Linked DNA regions of Homo sapiens: region 2 is linked to region 1. The links come from fine-mapping of genetic effects on gene expression. A gene starts in region 1. The other region holds a variant in brackets. All regions are shown on one strand. Distances are from middle to middle.

Evidence for each region. PIP is the estimated chance that this variant, and not a neighbour inherited with it, causes the effect.
Region 2: its variant is fine-mapped to the expression of MAPKAPK2 in whole blood (TOPMed, PIP above 0.99).

Annotation. Positions count from the first base shown.
Region 1 is chr1:206,680,828-206,689,152 of GRCh38, reverse strand. MAPKAPK2 (MAPK activated protein kinase 2) reads right to left here and starts at 4,248. Exons shown (of 10, transcript NM_032960.4): 1 at 3,645-4,248. The coding sequence starts at 3,923. LOC124904496 (a long non-coding RNA gene) reads right to left here. Exons shown (of 3, transcript XR_007066834.1): 2 at 7,563-7,978; 3 at 6,165-6,246. LOC124904495 (a long non-coding RNA gene) reads left to right here and starts at 4,347. Exons shown (of 3, transcript XR_007066833.1): 1 at 4,347-5,412; 2 at 5,610-5,802; 3 at 6,043-7,013. RefSeq lists enhancers at 520-1,081, 1,082-1,643 and silencers at 2,983-3,072, 3,483-3,572, 3,583-3,632, 4,093-4,272.
Region 2 is chr1:206,719,868-206,728,192 of GRCh38, reverse strand. All of the region lies in intron 1 of MAPKAPK2 (MAPK activated protein kinase 2), which reads right to left. Among named protein-coding and RNA genes, the nearest start is that of MAPKAPK2, 39 kb to the right of the region's middle. RefSeq lists an enhancer at 5,052-5,765. The variant T/C (reference allele first, on the strand shown) is at 3,172.

The DNA.
Region 1 (8,325 bases):
CAACATTCTATATTTTATAAAGCAGTAACATGCTTCACCTAATCAGAGTTGCACAGCAGAGAACAACGATACAGTCTTTAATTAAATTTGTTGAGCTAACACCTAAGGGTCACCATGACACAGTGAAGCGGCAAGCAGCTGAGGAACCCTCCCGGGGAATACAACTAATTAATACACAAGTGGGTTGAGACTAGGTGTCCTTATCAAAGAAGTAATACAGGCCGGGCGCGGTAGCTCACACCTGTAATCCCAGCACTTAGGCAGGCTGAGGCAGGCAGATCACGAGGTCAGGAGATCAAGACCATCCTGAATAACACAGTGAAACCCCATCTCTACTAAAAATACAAAAAATTAGCCGGGCATGGTGACGGGCGCCTGTAGTCCCAGCTACTCAGGAGGCTGAGGCAGAATGGCGTGGACCTGGGAAGCAGAGCTTGCAGTGAGCCAAGATCGTGCTACTGCACTCTAACCTGGGCGACAGAGCAACACTCTGTCTCAAAAAAAATAAAAATAAAAATAATAGAATTCCCATGTTCTTGTACAAAAAATAGTAAGTAAGGTGCCTATCAAATACTCTCTTAAAAGGGGGAGGGAGTGGTTAAAAAAATGCATGAAGCTACTGTTGAAGTTCCCCTCCAACTTTGGGGACTGTTCTCAGGAGCAGCAAATACCCATCCAGCCCCCTTCGCTGACCTCCCCTCTTGTCAGTCAGGGCCTGAGGTGACAGAACAGCTCCTCAGGCTGGAAGCACCCTGGAGCAGCAGGTGGCCATGTGCCTGAGCCCGTGGCTCAGTTAGGAAGTAAGTGGGAAGAAGCCTGAGACTGGGAGTCAGGCAACCTGGGTTCCAATCCTGCCTCTGCCAAGTGAATGGCTATGGTACCTTGAACAAGTCACTCCCTCACTCTGGGCCTTGGTTTTCTCTTCTGCAAAATAAGGGGGCTGGACAAAATGACCTTTCAAGTCCCTTGCAACTCTGACTGGAAGCATGACTCAGAACTTAGCAAAAGCAGCCAGGAGAGATGGTGAGGTGAGGTCAAAGCACCCACCAAAAGCATTTAAATGGGAGCTCTCTGAGGTGGAGGGAGAGAAGCAGCAGGGTGAGCTGGGACTCTTTTTCAAATGCTGATTTCACTTAACAGGGCTAAGAGGTCACCGACTATAGGCAGAGAGGAGAGCATCTAAGCAGCTGCCAGCTCCCATCAACTCTCAGGGCTGCAACATAGCAGACTTCTGAACCCCAGCAGAGGCTGGGCTCCTGCCCTCCAGCTCTGCCCTAGCCCCCAGCATTGGCCTCGGCACACTGTAGAATAGAGGTCTCCTCCCCTTTTCTCAGGCACCTTCCCAAGGGGGTAATCCCTCTTGCCCCACTCCATCTTCCTCTCCTGCTTTATAATCACTAGACTTCTGGTTTTGAAAACCATTTCACTACTCAGCACCTGAGGTTAATCAAAATTCAAGATCTAGAAATCTCTTTGGTGTGTGTCTCTGGAACAGCGTTCTTTGAACCAGATTCCCCCCACAGCTGTAATTATGTCTCAGCCAATATTTGGATATGGAAGTGCTGTTAACACTGCTGTCAGTCTCCAAATGCCTTGTCTCTCCTTTCTTCCTCCATTATTAAGTTTTAACACAAAGACGTGTGTGGGAAATCCACAATTTAACAGTTGAGTCAACTTAAAAGATCTGGGAGCAGGCTGCCTGTCAAAACAGACTGACTTCACTCTTCGCCCACTTCTAACCTGAGAGGGATAAACTATGAGTGTTATTTAACACGCTGCTGGATTTTTCCTTCCAAAACTATTCAAAGTAGAAAAATATGTAAACCTCTCTCTCGTTAGTTACAAGAGAAATCTGAATTGCCACTCAAAAGCATTTTATAGGATGATTTTGTGCGTGTGTCTATTAAACAGAATACAGAGCAGAAGTTGGGAGCTTTTGTTCTGAAGTCTTTACATAATATTCCAAATATCCAAGAGAATGAACAGCCAGTGTCCCCAAACTACTAATGGGTGAAGGCAGATGGTGTCTCAGAGGGGACAGCAAACACTCCTGTAAAGACCGTCTGTCACTTCCTCAATGATACAGGTTAACTGTGGTCAAACTGTATTCACCCAACTCCAGTCCCCAAGGTCAGAGCCATGCTCAATCCAAACAACTCCTCCTCCTCCTTTCCCTTCAGTTATGAGTAGGGAAAGAGAAGTCTAAGACACAAATGTTGAAGTGTTGAAGATACTTATCCCCTCTCCAACAGTCAACACTAAACAACAACCGAGATCCCAGAGCAATAACTTACAGTAGAAAGCAAAGCACTGTAACAGGGTTGAGTATGAGAGCAGCAGGAAAACAATTCTAGAGGCCTTAAAATCTAGAAATGGAACATGCTTGCCCCGTACAACCCCGAAGTACTGGTGTTTCTTTTAAAACATCTGATCGTATATTCCAATAGTTCCACCCATACCACATTTCTGAGTTTTGTACTTGACAACTGAAATACAGCTCGCTGTGGGGGCTGAAGGGGAAGAGAAAAATATAACACAGGAAGTATTTTTCTCCTCCTCCAATCATTGAGACACCCCAGGGGAAACAGACCTGAGGCGTCACCTTTAGAGATTGGTTTGACCTGAAACCCCTGTGAGAGGAAAACCTTGTTGGTGACCCTGCAAGACCGGCTCACACTTCACTGCGGACCCACCCATCTCATGAGACCTCCCAGTCCATTGTGTTTAACTTCTGAAGTCGATATTCTCACTTGAATCCTTATTCTCCCCACCACCACACCCCTTAAAGAAAGAAAAGGGATGGGCTCCCCCGGCTCAAGGATAATGTTTCCTCAGACTGCCCATCACGGCGCGAGTCCAGGACAGCAAGTGGCCCTCTCTAGGAGGCGGAATCAGCACGGGCCCGGCCGCGGGTTACAGACTCTGTTCACAATGATCAGCCGGGCCGCGGACACCGCCGGCCTCTCCCCGGAGCCGCCCCGCGCGGGCGTGGGAGGGGGCCAGCTGAGGGGGCCAGCTCCGGGATCCAAATAATCCCGCCCCCGCAGCCGGGGGACACCCAGGACCCTCCCGCCGCACACCTCCTGCCCGGCGCGCCCCAAGGCGGCCCGGCTGCCCTCGCGAGGCTCGGGGAAGTGAAATCACACATTCCGGCTCCCAAATAAGGAGCGAGGCTAAATAAACCTCTGCGATCCGACTTCTCCAAACCAACCGACCAACCGGCTCAATGAGTAATGGGCCTTTTGTGCCCGCAGAGAGAGAAAAAGGAGGGAGGAGAGGACGGGGAACCACCAACCCCAAAATCACTTCCTTGAGATGGAGTGAAATTAGCAGAAGTCCCGAAGCCAACCGTTCTGACTCGGCTGGATCCCGCTCAAACCCCAAAATGGCAGGGTCCCCTGAGTCCCCAGGAGCGGGTCCCAGGGCTCCCGCCCGGGAGCGGCCGGAAGCGGTCAGGGAGGCGAGGGCGCTGGGACCCGCCGCCCGCGCCGCACTCGGCACCGCCGGCCCGGCCGCCCCGCCCCGCCCCGCCGCGGCCACCCCTCCGCCCCGCGCCGCGACCCAGGCCGGGACGGGCACCCGACGCCGTGGAGCTCCAGGGCCCGGGACCGGCCCCGCCTCCCCTCCCCGGGCCCCAGACCTACTTTGAGGGCGAATTTCTCCTGGGTCCTCTTGTTGAAGATCTGCAAAACTTTGCCGTTGATGCCCAGCCCCAGGACCTGGCTGGTGACCTTGTAGTCATCGATGATGGCGTTCTTCTTGATCTGCAGGCCGGACTTGACGTGGAACTGCGGGAACTGCTGCGGGGGCGGCGGCGGCGGCTGCGCCGGGGGGTGCGGCAGGGCAGGGGTGGGGGGCTGCGGCGGCGGGGCCGGGGCGGGGAACGGCACCGGCGGGCTCTGGCCCTGGGAGTTGGACAGCATGGTGCCCGGGGACGCCGGGGCACAGGCGGGGGTGCCCGCGGCCGCCCCCTCCTCCGGCTCCGGGCCCCCTCCCCGCCGCCCCCCGACGGGCTGCGAAGTTCGCTCCGGGCTGGAGCCGGCTTCCCCGACCCGGCCCGGCTCCAGGCTCGGCGGGTCGCGGGGCTCCGTGGGTCCCACCGCGCGCCGCTGGCTCCCACCGGCCCGGCGCCCTCCCTCCCTCCCCCCGGGGGCCTGGCGCTCTGGGGACCGCGGGGCGGCGGGGGCCCGGCCGGGGGGAAGCGGCCGCGCGACAATGTACCCAGCCCCGGGCCGGCGGCCGCGTCACAGCCTCGTCTGCGTCCGGGGCCGGTCCTTAAAGGGGAGGGGCGGGGGGCGGGGCCTGGGGAGGCGTGGCGTGGGGGGAGGGGCGGGCCTTAAAGGGGAGGACGCGCGGTGCCGGGAGCTGGGAGGATCGCGGAGTAGGCTGGGGGCTGCTGCCTCGCGGACAGTGAGAGGGGACAGGGAGAGGGGACGAAGAAATGCTAGTTCTTAACCAAGGCTATGCAAAGGGAGAGGGGAGGCGTGTCAAAGGAGCTGCATAATTCAGATGGAAAATCCACTCCTCTCCAATTGTCTGGGCTTCTTAGCGGCAGCGAATTGGGAGAGGGGTGTATTTCCAAGGACAGGGATGGCTTGTAGGTATCCAGCTAGATGAGACCTCGTGGGGGTGGGGGGGAGCTGGAATCACAGGGGTCATTCATCCCAGGAAAAGGTGTGAGCCAAAGGCGGGCGTATTAAATATTTCCCTAACTTCAACATTTTCCTCTGAGGTTTTTTGCATCTCTTTTCTCATTAATTTATTGTTTTTCAGTAAAGACGTATTATTGTGTAACCAGGAGCACTTTAGTAATTATACCTTTGAACATGTTTTCCTGTAAATAAACTAAAAAGGATACAGGGTGGGAAGAGGATGGGTTGAGATTGGGGCCACCTGAATTCCCGCCATCCTTTGCCACGGATTGGCTGTGTGAGGCTGAGCAAGCCTTGCACCTCTCTCTCCGTGGGAAGAACAGCGAGACCTTTTCAAAGGTTGTGGGCAGAGTCAAAGGAGATAATGAAACTGAAGGGGAGGCCCTGGGGAATGGCTTCTGATTTCCGATGTGGAAAAATTAATCCGTAAGAAGTGGGTTAGCCCCGTGTATCTCAGGAAAAGCCCAGGGATCTAGCTGGACCCTGCATAGAAGCTGCCAGGAGGCCTCCACACACATTCTGATGGGGTTCGAGATGACCAAGTACATTCCTGCCGACCTCCTCCCACCTCTGACTGGCAGAACATTTGAGAAATGGCAAGCAACCCAGACAGGTGAACACAAAACCTCAGCTTAAGTCTTGGTAAGGCCAGTTAGAGAATGAGGCTTGACCTATGGCCACACATGCCCCCTAATAGGTCCCCCAAAACTCCAGAGAGAAGACAACACCCCCAGAAGTGGCCACTGGGGATAGAACTTAGGTAGGTAAGGGACAAGTGCAAATGTCTCTTCCCTCATTCACCTTTCCCAGAAGATGCTTGTGGAGGCAGGAATGAGGGGGAGGAGTGAGGGGTGGGAGTTACCCTCCCAACACTGTCCTTTCCTGGGGCAGGTAGGGCTCTGTGGACCAAGGAGAGACATGTTTCCCCCGACACAAACATATGCTCTTCTCAAGCAGCATCTGCTTAGCTCCATGTACAAGGTGCCGTGCTCAGCCCTGCAGCGGTGGATGGTGTTATCTGATGGGGAAGAAGACAGATAACAGTGGCACAGAGAGGATGGCAGACACCTTCCTAGGAGCCCGAAGCACAGGGATTCTCTTCTGTCTACAGCAGCCAGCAGCTTCCTCCCGAGTCTACAGGATAGATACGGTTAGACAGCTCCCCAGATGCCCCTGACTCTTCAAAGACAAAGACACTATCTAAGGCCACGGGGATAGGAAAACATCTTCACTCCACTACTTCTATAGCACTGCTATCACCTCCCCGAAGCACACACAGGAGATGCCCAAGGACAAGAGGAACGCAGGGGTGGGAAGGTGGAAGGCTCCAACTGCTCAGGCTCTGGTGGGGCTGCTCTGGAGTCTGAGTTGGTCTTTTTTTTCTTTGCAGAGTCACTGGAAGCTCCCTATGGCTTGGTGTTGAGGTATCACCTGCTTTTCTCCACAAAGCTAGAAAGAGAATAACTTCCTTCTGCCTTTTCAGAGGCAGCAAGGCACAGTGGTAAGATGACAGGATCTAGAGACAAATGAGCTGAAGCCAAGACTGTCCTCCAACTGGGTTACCTTGAGCAAGACATGTAACATCTCTCAGCATCTGAAAAAGAAAAGAAAAAAACAACAAAATCTACTTTCGGGGCTGAGAGAGAATAAAATGAAATAGTAATTATGAGAACACATCCTAAAGCATAAACTATACATTATCATGAAATATTAAATATCACCATTATTTAGACATTGCTGGCTTGCTCCTCTGCTCTGTGCTCATGGCCTACGGATCTATTCCTGATATCAAAGCTGCTTTCCTACCTAGCTGGAGCTCCAGGGAGATGGTGAGGCCCAATGATCTAGGAATAACAGGACAACTGAATTCCCACCTGAGAGTCCTCCCGGAGCTGCAAGAGCCAAATAGGCCTAGGGGGCACACAGGGACTCTGAGGGTACATACATAGTGGATAGAGATTATATGAACTGCACACACAGCACCAGAAAACACACACATATATGAACACAACACATGAGCACAATGTGCCATGTAACAGAATAAACGCCTAGTGGATGAATAATTGAGGAGTAAGATGTGCTAAATGCAGAAGCACTGGCCAAGAGATCCTGAGTCTTAAGTTCCATTCTGATACTGACTCGCTATGTAACCTCATGAGAGCCCCTTGCTCTCTCAGTTCCTTCCTTCTCATCTGCAAAATAGTGACAATAACATCTGCCTTGCCTACTTTGTAGGGCTTGTGCAAGGATAAAATAAAAACTTTCCTACAGGAAGCAGTCCAAAGTCCTATTTGTGTAACACCAGGCTCTTAGCCATCTGTAATGAACTACTTAATAAACAGTTTTTATGGATGTGTAAAAGCGCTTTAAAACTTGAAAGTCTATGCAAATAGAAAGTACTATTTTTATCTACTATTAACATGCAAACACATATGCCATGCAATATAGTACACACAAAGACAATTTAAGGACCTCAGGTACATAGAAATGGATTAATTATAATCCTTGATTCATGACACACTCTCGTCATTGGATCATTGATCCATGCAGCTCCACTTTTATTGTTAGTTAATAATTATTTTTAATAATGCAGTAAGCACCTGTGAATCCACTACCCAAAATAAAAACTAGAACTTCGACAATAATTTACATCTAACTAGATGATTCCTCCACACACACTCCCCCAACCCCTCCATTTTCATGGCCCAAGACCCCATCATCCTGAGTCCTATGTTCACCTTTCCCTTGCTTTCCTTTTTATATAGTTTTGTTTCATGAAGGCATGTTCAAAGGTATCATAAAAGATGAAACTCAAATCACCTTAAAAGGGAGGTGGCCAAGGGTGATGTTAGCAGCAAGACCAGGTTAAAATAAGAAAATGCCTTGTCACAGTTTCAAAGTATTCCTCACCTTCTCATGATGATGGTGATGATGATGTTGATGATGATGATGATGATGACGATGACAATGTTTTTTGAGTGCTTCCTGAGTGCCCAACACTGTGCTCAACCCTCTACCTGCATTGTCTCATTTAAATCTCATGATGATCCGTGGCTGAGATTGCTAGTTGGGTGGGCTAACACCTTTTTTTCCTCTCTTTGATAGTAAAGAGCACCCCATATTTAGCTAAGCACAAGACTGCCTGGAATAAAAATTACATTTCCCACTTGAGCAGCCTCCACTATAGCCGGTTACATTCATAAGATTAAGTTATAACCAATGACTTGTAAGTGGAAGTGGTTTATGGAAAGAAGTATGTCCTTCTTCTTCTCCTTCTCTTTTTTCTTTCCTGCTGACTGGAATAAAAATTTCACAGCTGTAGCCATCTTGGATGGTGAATTGGAGGTTACAGGTTGAGGAAGACAGAACAAAAGGACAGAAAGAGTCTGTATACTGGTGAACCTGGATCCATCATATCAGCAATGAGCCACCTACCCAGACTTTTATATGAAAGAACAATAAATGGCCTTCTTGTTGAAGTGACTGATGGTCTAGGTTTTCTATCATTCACAGCCAAACCTTATCCTACTCTTACACAGCCCTATGAGGTCTGTACTGTTATCCTCACTTATCTGTTGTATAAACAAGAAAACTGAGTCCCAGAGAAATTAAATAACTTTCTCAGAGTCATTCCACTAGCGAAGGACAGGACCCAAATCTTTCTGACCCAAAG
Region 2 (8,325 bases), 39 kb before region 1:
TTGGAAGTCAGCCGGATGCCAGTATGAATCCAGTTATTACTAGATTTCCAAGCTTGAGCAAGTTACTTAACTCGTCGAACCTCACTGATGCCCCTTCTTCTCCCTGGACCAATTGGCTAGGGGTATTAAAGGAGGCTGGCTTCTCACCAGCCTCAGGGGTTCAATCTTGACCTGTCTAAGCCAGTCTCATTAATTCCAGTCCCTTTGCTAGTGACTGGCTTGGGAACAAGCCTACAACTCAACTGGCCAAGAGCCTTGTAAGAAATCTGCTGCCGGGCACGGTGGCTCGTGCCTGTAATCCCAGCACTTTGGGAGGCCGAGGCAGGCAGATCACGAGGTCAGGAGATCAAGACCATCCTGGCTAACACGGTGAAACCCCGTCCCTACTAACAATACAAAAAAAATTAGCCAGGCATGGTGGCAGGCGACTGTAGCCCCAGCTACTCAGGAGGCTGAGGCAGGAGAATGGCGTGAACCCTGAGAGGTGGAGCTTGCAGCGAGCCGAGATCACGCCACTGCACTCCAGCCTGGGCAACAGAGCGAGACTCCATCTCAAAAAAAAAAGAAATCTGCTAAGAGGCTTCTTAAAGGGAGCACAAGAAATGTACATCATCTCTCCTGCATATGGCACCTGGGACCATGACAGTCACATTATTACCAGTAAGGGGGGCCTAAGAGGATAAACCAATGCACTGAGGAAGGCAACCAGGAGAAATGGCAATCACCTGGATCCTCGCTGCCATCACCAGGGATCCCTCAGTACTTCTTTTTGACAAGATAATAAACTCTTCTTACTGTTTAAGCTGCTTTTCATGAAATTGTCTATTGCTTGGAGCCAAAAGCATCCTGATCTACCCTTCCTTTGTAAAGTGGGGATGGATAATGGCTTCTGTTTCACAGATTTGTTGTGAGGATTAAATGAAATATTTCCACAAAGCACCTCACAGAGTATCTGACATGCACTCACTAATAGCTGTCATTTTTATCACCAATTGTCTAAGTGCAAGCGCAGGTGCCAAAATAATTAAGACAAGGACACTCACAGATTTAGCATCTTCATGGGAAGTCAAGATGAGCCCTACACAGTCCACACTCCAACTGCTTTGGACATTCAGAGGGCTGGGGTGTCCAAGAGACATGCTGGGAAGGAAATGGACAGGCAGAGGGAAGGCATGAAGGCAGAGGGAAACGTGGGAAGCAGGTGCTGACTGACCGAGATGGAGTGGAGCTGGGGTGATACAGCAGGGAGGCCTAAGAACCTGCTGGAAAGTGTCTGAAGCTTGCAAATAAGATCAGATGGCCATGATGGAGCCAGCTTGCAGAGGGAAGGGAAGGACAAATGAGCATTTCCAACAAGAATGCTGGCATACATTTATGCTATGGCCCATGATATGTTGGGTTTTTCCTAACTGTACATTTGCCATTTTACAGGATGGGGAAGCTGAGGCTCAGAGAAGTAGCATGCCCAAGGCTAAGTTTCTGAGAAAAGGCAGAGCCAAGGTTGGAATCCAGGCCTGGTAGACTCCAAAGACCAAGTCTTTCCACCACACCACCCAGCTTTTAGAGGAGGCTGGAAGCCAAGATTTCTCAGACTGACTTTGCAGAGGCAATTCCCCAAACAGGTGACTAGAAGGAATCAATGACTAGATAACTCGGTCTCTCCCATGGAGTAACAGGTGGCCGGAGCCAATAGTTGCAGGAGGCAAGGTTCCCAGGAGGTCACACTGCCACCTTGTGGCCATATGAGGACACCTCATGGGTCTTGAGTTCTGCCACTTTCAACTTCATTAGGGTTTGTTTGTTTCTGAGACAGGGTCTCGCTCTGTTGCCCAGGCTGGAGTGCAGTGGCACAATCTTGGCTCACTGTAACCTCCGCCTCCCGGGTTCAAACAATTCTCCCACTTCAGCCTCCTGAGTAGCTGGGATTACAGGTGTGAGCCACCACGTCTGGCTAATTTTTTGGTATTTTTAGTAGAGACCGGGTTTCGCCATGTTGGCCAGGCTGGTCTCGAACTCCTGGTCTCAAGTGATACCCCACCTTGGCCTCCCAATGTGCTGGGATTACAGGTGTGAGCCACCATGCCCAGCCTTCAACTTCATTCATTTGGATGTACCAGGAAAAAAGTTTACTTTCCCATGCTCTAAGGGGAGCAAGAGAAGGCACTGGCCAATTTCCTTTGTATATAATTCAATCCAGCAAGCATTTACTGAGCTCCTACTATGGGCCATGCATTGCACTGAATGTCAAAACCAAATAGAGCAGTCCTGATCTGGAAAAGCCTAGGCTAGTGGGGGGCAGAAGAAGATATGAGGGGAGACACAGAAAATCCTTAAAATCCAGTGAGATTACATGCTGTAAGAGTGCTAAATTCAAAGGGTTCAGGAGGAACAAGGTTTCCAGAGCAGCCAAGCAGAAAGAACCTCGATCGCCCCCTACAGGCACACAGGAACTGGAGCCCAGAGGAGAAGAATCAAAGTTGTCAGATTTACTCAGAAGCAATGCCTGGTTGTAGAGTTACAATCAGGGAAGACTTGGCCCAGTCTGAAATTTGTCAATTTCTTCTTGCACAGCCTCACAGAGAGGTCTACCTTTCAGAGCCTGTGCCACATGCATTTAGGAGCGATGATACCTGCCTAGCCTCCCCCTCATAGAAACATTATGAGCATCTAATGAAATAATACCTCTAAAAGTGCTTTATTATCAGAAAGGCATTCATCACTGTCAACCAGTACCATTAATGCCACAGTACAGGGGGGTTCCTCCGTCACCACTGAGTTGAGCTTGGAGCATGTGGATGTAACCAGCACAAGTTATCACCAAGATTGTAGGCTGGGTTTCTGTCTTCAGCCCAGTGACGACCACCAGGACATCTGCCAACCAGAGCTGTGCTAAGTGAGGATGCACCAAGATCCAAATCTAAATGCATGCTCCTTAGCACCCCCTGAATTCCAAGCGCTCACTGCAACTTCCGCACTTTCTGCCCTGAACACGTTAGGAGTGCGTGGCACAAGGCAAAGGAGAGTTTGTGCAAGAAGGGCTAGGTTCACATCACACTTCCAGACTTGCACAAACTCTCTACCCATTAGAGGAGACGGATGTAGCACAGTGAACCTAGGCTTTGCAATCGCATGCATTTTGAATCCCAGTTCTGCACTTCCTAGCTTGTGTCA[T/C]GCAAGCCCACCTATCTTTCTGGAAAGGGTTTCCTCATCTGTAAAATTAGATTCAACTTCGTGAAATAATATCCTTGAAGGTGCTTCAGAAACTCTATATAGGGTAGTTTCCACTTTGAAAAAATTTACCATTTTGCATATTTATGCCTTATCTGCCCAACCTAACTGAGTTTCTAATGGGCAAGATCTAATTTGATTTCTGTTTACTCCCTCCCCTCTTCCTTCCCTCACCTAGTGGTTAGGAACTTCTGAGCTAACACCCCCTCATTCTGTTGCTTCTTCTCCCTACTAAACTCTCTCCCCCAGTGACTGAGGGTGAGCTGTCCTTTCCATCCTGAAATAAATTGGAAAAGGTAGTATTTTAAATTTCTTAGAGAAACTTAGCAAGAATTTCCCATGAAGACTGGTCATTGCACATCCTGCATTTGTATTCCAGAACTTAAATTAAATTTAACAAAAAAAAAAAAAAAAAGGACTGGTCATTGACATCCATCCAGGCACATGTTTATCAGAAATCCCTGACTGGATAAGAAAATCAACCCAAGCAATGAAAGCCCTTCAGATGGGCGAGGCAGGCTGGCTGACGTCCTGGGGGCACAGCCCTGAAGTGCCAAAGTGGCTCTGTGGACAAGTGTGGAGCGCAGAAGGCCTGGAGAGAGGAAACCAAGAATGTGCTAATCTGGAGTACAGGGCTAAGTAAAGAACAGCAGGGGAGGTGGCCTGCACTCCAAGCCAAAGAAGAGACAGGGAAGGAAAGCAGGACTCCTAGGGCACTGCCAGAGGCCACCAGCAGAGCGAGGCGGCAGGTCCACCCAGAAGCCAAGGCCCCTGCTCCTTGGGCATGGGCATGGCCATGGGCAGTGAAGGCCAACAGGCCCTGAACCATGCTCTGAGGACTGGAGACTAGAAGAAGGAAGGGTCTTCCCACTAAAAAGCCATAGATCATTAGTCAAAGAATGCCTGGAGGAATTGTGAAATATTTTAAGCCCAAACTAAGCCCCGGTCCAACATTGTGACTCACCTCAGCCCCACAGTTTGTGCCTGAAATTCTCTTACACGTAGAAAAGGTTAATGATTGCGTGTGCTCAGCTGCAACGCCACAGGCAAGGCCCCCTGCCAACTGTGGCAGGGGCAGGGGCCCAAGCCACAGAGCGCATTGCCTGGGAAGGAAGCTCTAGGACAGCGGCAGTGAGGGAGCTGCGGGAGCTGCCTAAATACAGTCCCATGCCTCTCTGTCTCTTCCAGCACCTGAGGGGAAGAAGGACAGGACCCCTCCCCCTATTCAAGGTATGCATGGTTCCCCTCATCTCCTCCTGCAAGTCTGCCATTGTGGAGCCACGTGGAAAGACTCAGGAGTGGTCAGCATTAGAAGCCTGGCTGAGCCAGAGGACAGGAAAGCAGCCGGCACCCAGGGCCTGATGTGCCACTCGTCAGCAAGGTGGACATGAAGACAAGACTGGGAAGGAGCAGGCCCCAGGCCCTCAGGAGGACCCCCTTCACAAGCGCCACTGCTCACTAGCTATGTGAACTGGGAAAAGTTTCCAACCCCTTTGTGCCTTGGTTCCCTTACCCATTAATAGGACAGTAATAGTCCCCACCTCATGGGCTTGCTATACAAGATGAGTTAATAGATGTGCATGATGTAAATAACTAAGAATAACGCTTGGCACGTAATAAGTACTGCATCCGTGTTTGCTATTATTATTCTGCTCCCCACTCCCCATGTGTTGGAGTCCCACTGGGGGGGGCAACTGGGATTCCATTACACCCATTTCAATGAAGGTGTTATTAATAGCTCTGGGCACTGGACAGACGGGGGACCCCAGGACACGGGGAGGAAAGCAGGCTGTGGCATCCCAGCCCTGTACACTCCCTCACTACACCACCTAAGCTGGGCGCATGTAATGAGAGAAGGAAGACATCCCTCCCCAAGACAGACTCTGATTCAGCGCCAAGAGCGATGCAAAAGGCTGATTCTGGCACCAAGTGTGTTGTGGGTGTGTGGTGCGGTATGTGTTGGCAAATAAGACCTCCTCTTCACTCCCAGGAGGCAGCTGGGGGTCGGGGGAAAGCCACGTGTGTCACACACTAACCCACCGTGCCTCCAGGCCAGGGCCACCCACTCTGGTTCCCGGACCACCGGCGCCTCTGCTGCACCACATGGAGGATGGCTGGCCCGGGTGCTCTGAGGGGTGTAAAGGAAAGAGGACTCGGGAGGGCAGCTGCTGCAGGTGAGCCTCAGCAACCTCTTAGCAAGGTGCTGGAGCAGGCTGCAGGCCGAGGGGGGCTGGCAGTGCTCTGTGCTAAATGGCTGCTAAGTACTGTTGGCCCTTGAACAACCCAGGTTTGAACTGCGTGGATCCATTTATACAGGGATTTTCTTCCACTTCTGCCAGCCCTGCAGCAGCAAGACCAACCCTTCCTCTTCCTCCTCCTCTTCCTCAGCCTACTCAAAGTGATTTTCTTAACGATGCTTATTTTCTTTAGCTTATTTTATTCAAGAATAAAGATATAATACACGCAACAGACAAAATATGTGTTAATCAACTATGTAATCAGTAAGGCTTCGGGTCAACAGTAGGCTATTATTTAATAGTAGTTCTAGGGGAATCAAAAGTTTTCTTTTGTTTCTTTGTTTTTTTTTGTTTTTGTTTTTGTTTTTGAGACAGAGTCTCGCCCTGTTGCCCAGGCTGGAGTGCAGTGGCACGATCTCCGCTCACTGCAAGCTCCGCTTCCCGGGTTCACGCCATTCTCCTGCCTCAGCTTCCCGAGTAGCTGGGACCATAGGTGCCCACCACCACGCCTGGCTAATTTTTTCTATTTTTAGTAGGGACGGGGTTTCACCGTGTTAGCCAGGATGGTCTCGATCTCCTGACCTCGTGATCCGCCCGCCTCGGCCTCCCAAAGTGCTGGGATTACAGGCATGAGCCACCGTGCCTGGCCTTTTTTTTTTTTTGAAATAGAGTTTCACTCTCATTACCCAGGCTGGAGTGCAATGGTGCGATCTCGGCTCACCGCAACCTCCACCTCCCGGGTTCAAGTGATTCTCCTGCCTCTGCCTCCCGAGTAGCTGGGATTACAGGCGTGTGCCACCATGCCCGGCTAATTTTGTATTTTTAGTAGAGACAGGGTTTCTCCATGTTGGTCACGCTGGTCTCAAACTCCTAATCTCAGGTGATCTGCCCAACTCAGATCAAAAGTTTTATGTGAATTGACTGCCCAACCTTTGCATTGTTCAAGGGTCCACTGTGCTTCAAATGGGTCATCTCACCCACTTCACCCCCACCCTGGGAGGAAACATCCTATTTTATAAATGAGAAAACTCACTGAGTCATTAGTTCACGACCTTTTGGCCAGTTGTCCCTGGCAGGGCTGGAGTTTGAACCCTGCTCTGGCTGCTCCTAAAGCCTCCTTTCCACCACCCCACAGTAAGGCAAAGAGTTCAAAATCTGCCCAAGACTGTCCACAACAGCAACAGCCAGAAATGGAGGCTGAAAATGCCTTAAAGTGCAAACCCTTTGATGTTAAAATTCTACTTTTAGAATTTCATCCTCAGGTATTAATCATAGACGTATCTTTAAGAAAATATACATCTCAAGAGTTATTTACCTTTACTAGAAATAGCTAACAAACTTATTAGTCTACTTTGCATTGCTATTAAGAAATACCTGAGACTGGGTAATCTGTAAAGAAAAGATATAACTGGCTTATAGTTCTGCAGCTGGTACAAGCTTGGCACTAGTATCTGCTTTTGGTGAGGCCTCAGGAAGCTTACAATCATGGTGGAAGGTGAAGGGGGAGCAGGGATGTCACATGGCAAGAGCAGGAGCAACAGGGGTGGGGTGCCACCCACTTTTAAACAACCAGATCTCCTAAGAACTCACTATCTTAAGAACAGCACCAAGCCATTCACGAGGGACCTACCCCCATGGCCCAAACACCTCCCACCAGGCCCCACCTCCCACACTGGGGATTACACTTCAACATGAGATTTGGGAGAAACAAACATCCAAACTATATCACAAACTTAAGGCCCAGAGATAAGTAACAGAGGTTGTTTTATGTAAAAGTGAGTTTAGCTACACAATCTACAGCCACTGAAATGGTGTTTCAGATGAATATTAAATGGGGAAATGTGGATTCCTGAGTGTCTACTAGATTCTCAGGTATCATCACTGTCATTGTCTAGAATACTATCCTATTTTTTCTTCTGCATCCCAAATCCCAATGTGTACTTTCTTTAAATTTCATTATCAAAACATGTCTGATGGTAACTGAAAGTTACAAACCCTTATGTACAGCATAAACTCAGTGCTCTATGGATATTTATTGGATCTGTATATAAAAAAAATAAAGGCATAGGGGCTGGCCATAGTGGCTCACATCTATAACCCCAGCACTTTGGGAGGCCAAGGGGGGCAGATTACTTGAAGTCAGAAGTTCATGACCAGCCTGGCCAACATGCTGAAAGCCTGTCTCTATCAAAAAATACAAAAAAATTAGCCAGGCATGGTGGCACGCACCTGTAAGCAATCCCAGCTACTTGGGAGGCTGAGGTGGGAAAATCACTTGAACCCAGGAAGCGGAGGTTGTAGTGAGCCTGCACTCCAGCCTGGGCAACAGAGTGAGACTCTGTCTCAAAAACAAAACAAAACAAAACAAAACAAAAACAATAAAGGCATTAAGACTCAATGAGTTGTTAATGGTAATGATCTCTGAAAGACAGAATCACAGATTTAATTTCCTTTATTATGTCTGTATTTTCTAGGTGATTTACAATTAGTATATGTTACTTTTTAAAGAGACAAGCTTAGCTCTCTAAATTTTAGTCAGAGGGCAGCCATCCACGTCTCAGGCCCTATGGCCATGGAGCATATCTCTGGGGCTTCCGGAAACTCTGCCAGGTGGAAGATCTGGAGCCAGAGAGGGACACAGGAGGAGACACATGAGCACTTGATCCCATCCTAACAGAATGGATCACTCAGTGAAACCCCGGAGTGCCTAGCATGTGCCACACACTGGTTTAGAGGATGCCAAGGGTATAATAGAGAACATGACAAATAAGCCCCGTGACCGCCACAGAACTTAACATTTTAGTGCAGGAGGTACACCAAAAACAAGCTCAAAGAAAATAGTTTTAATTATACACTGTGA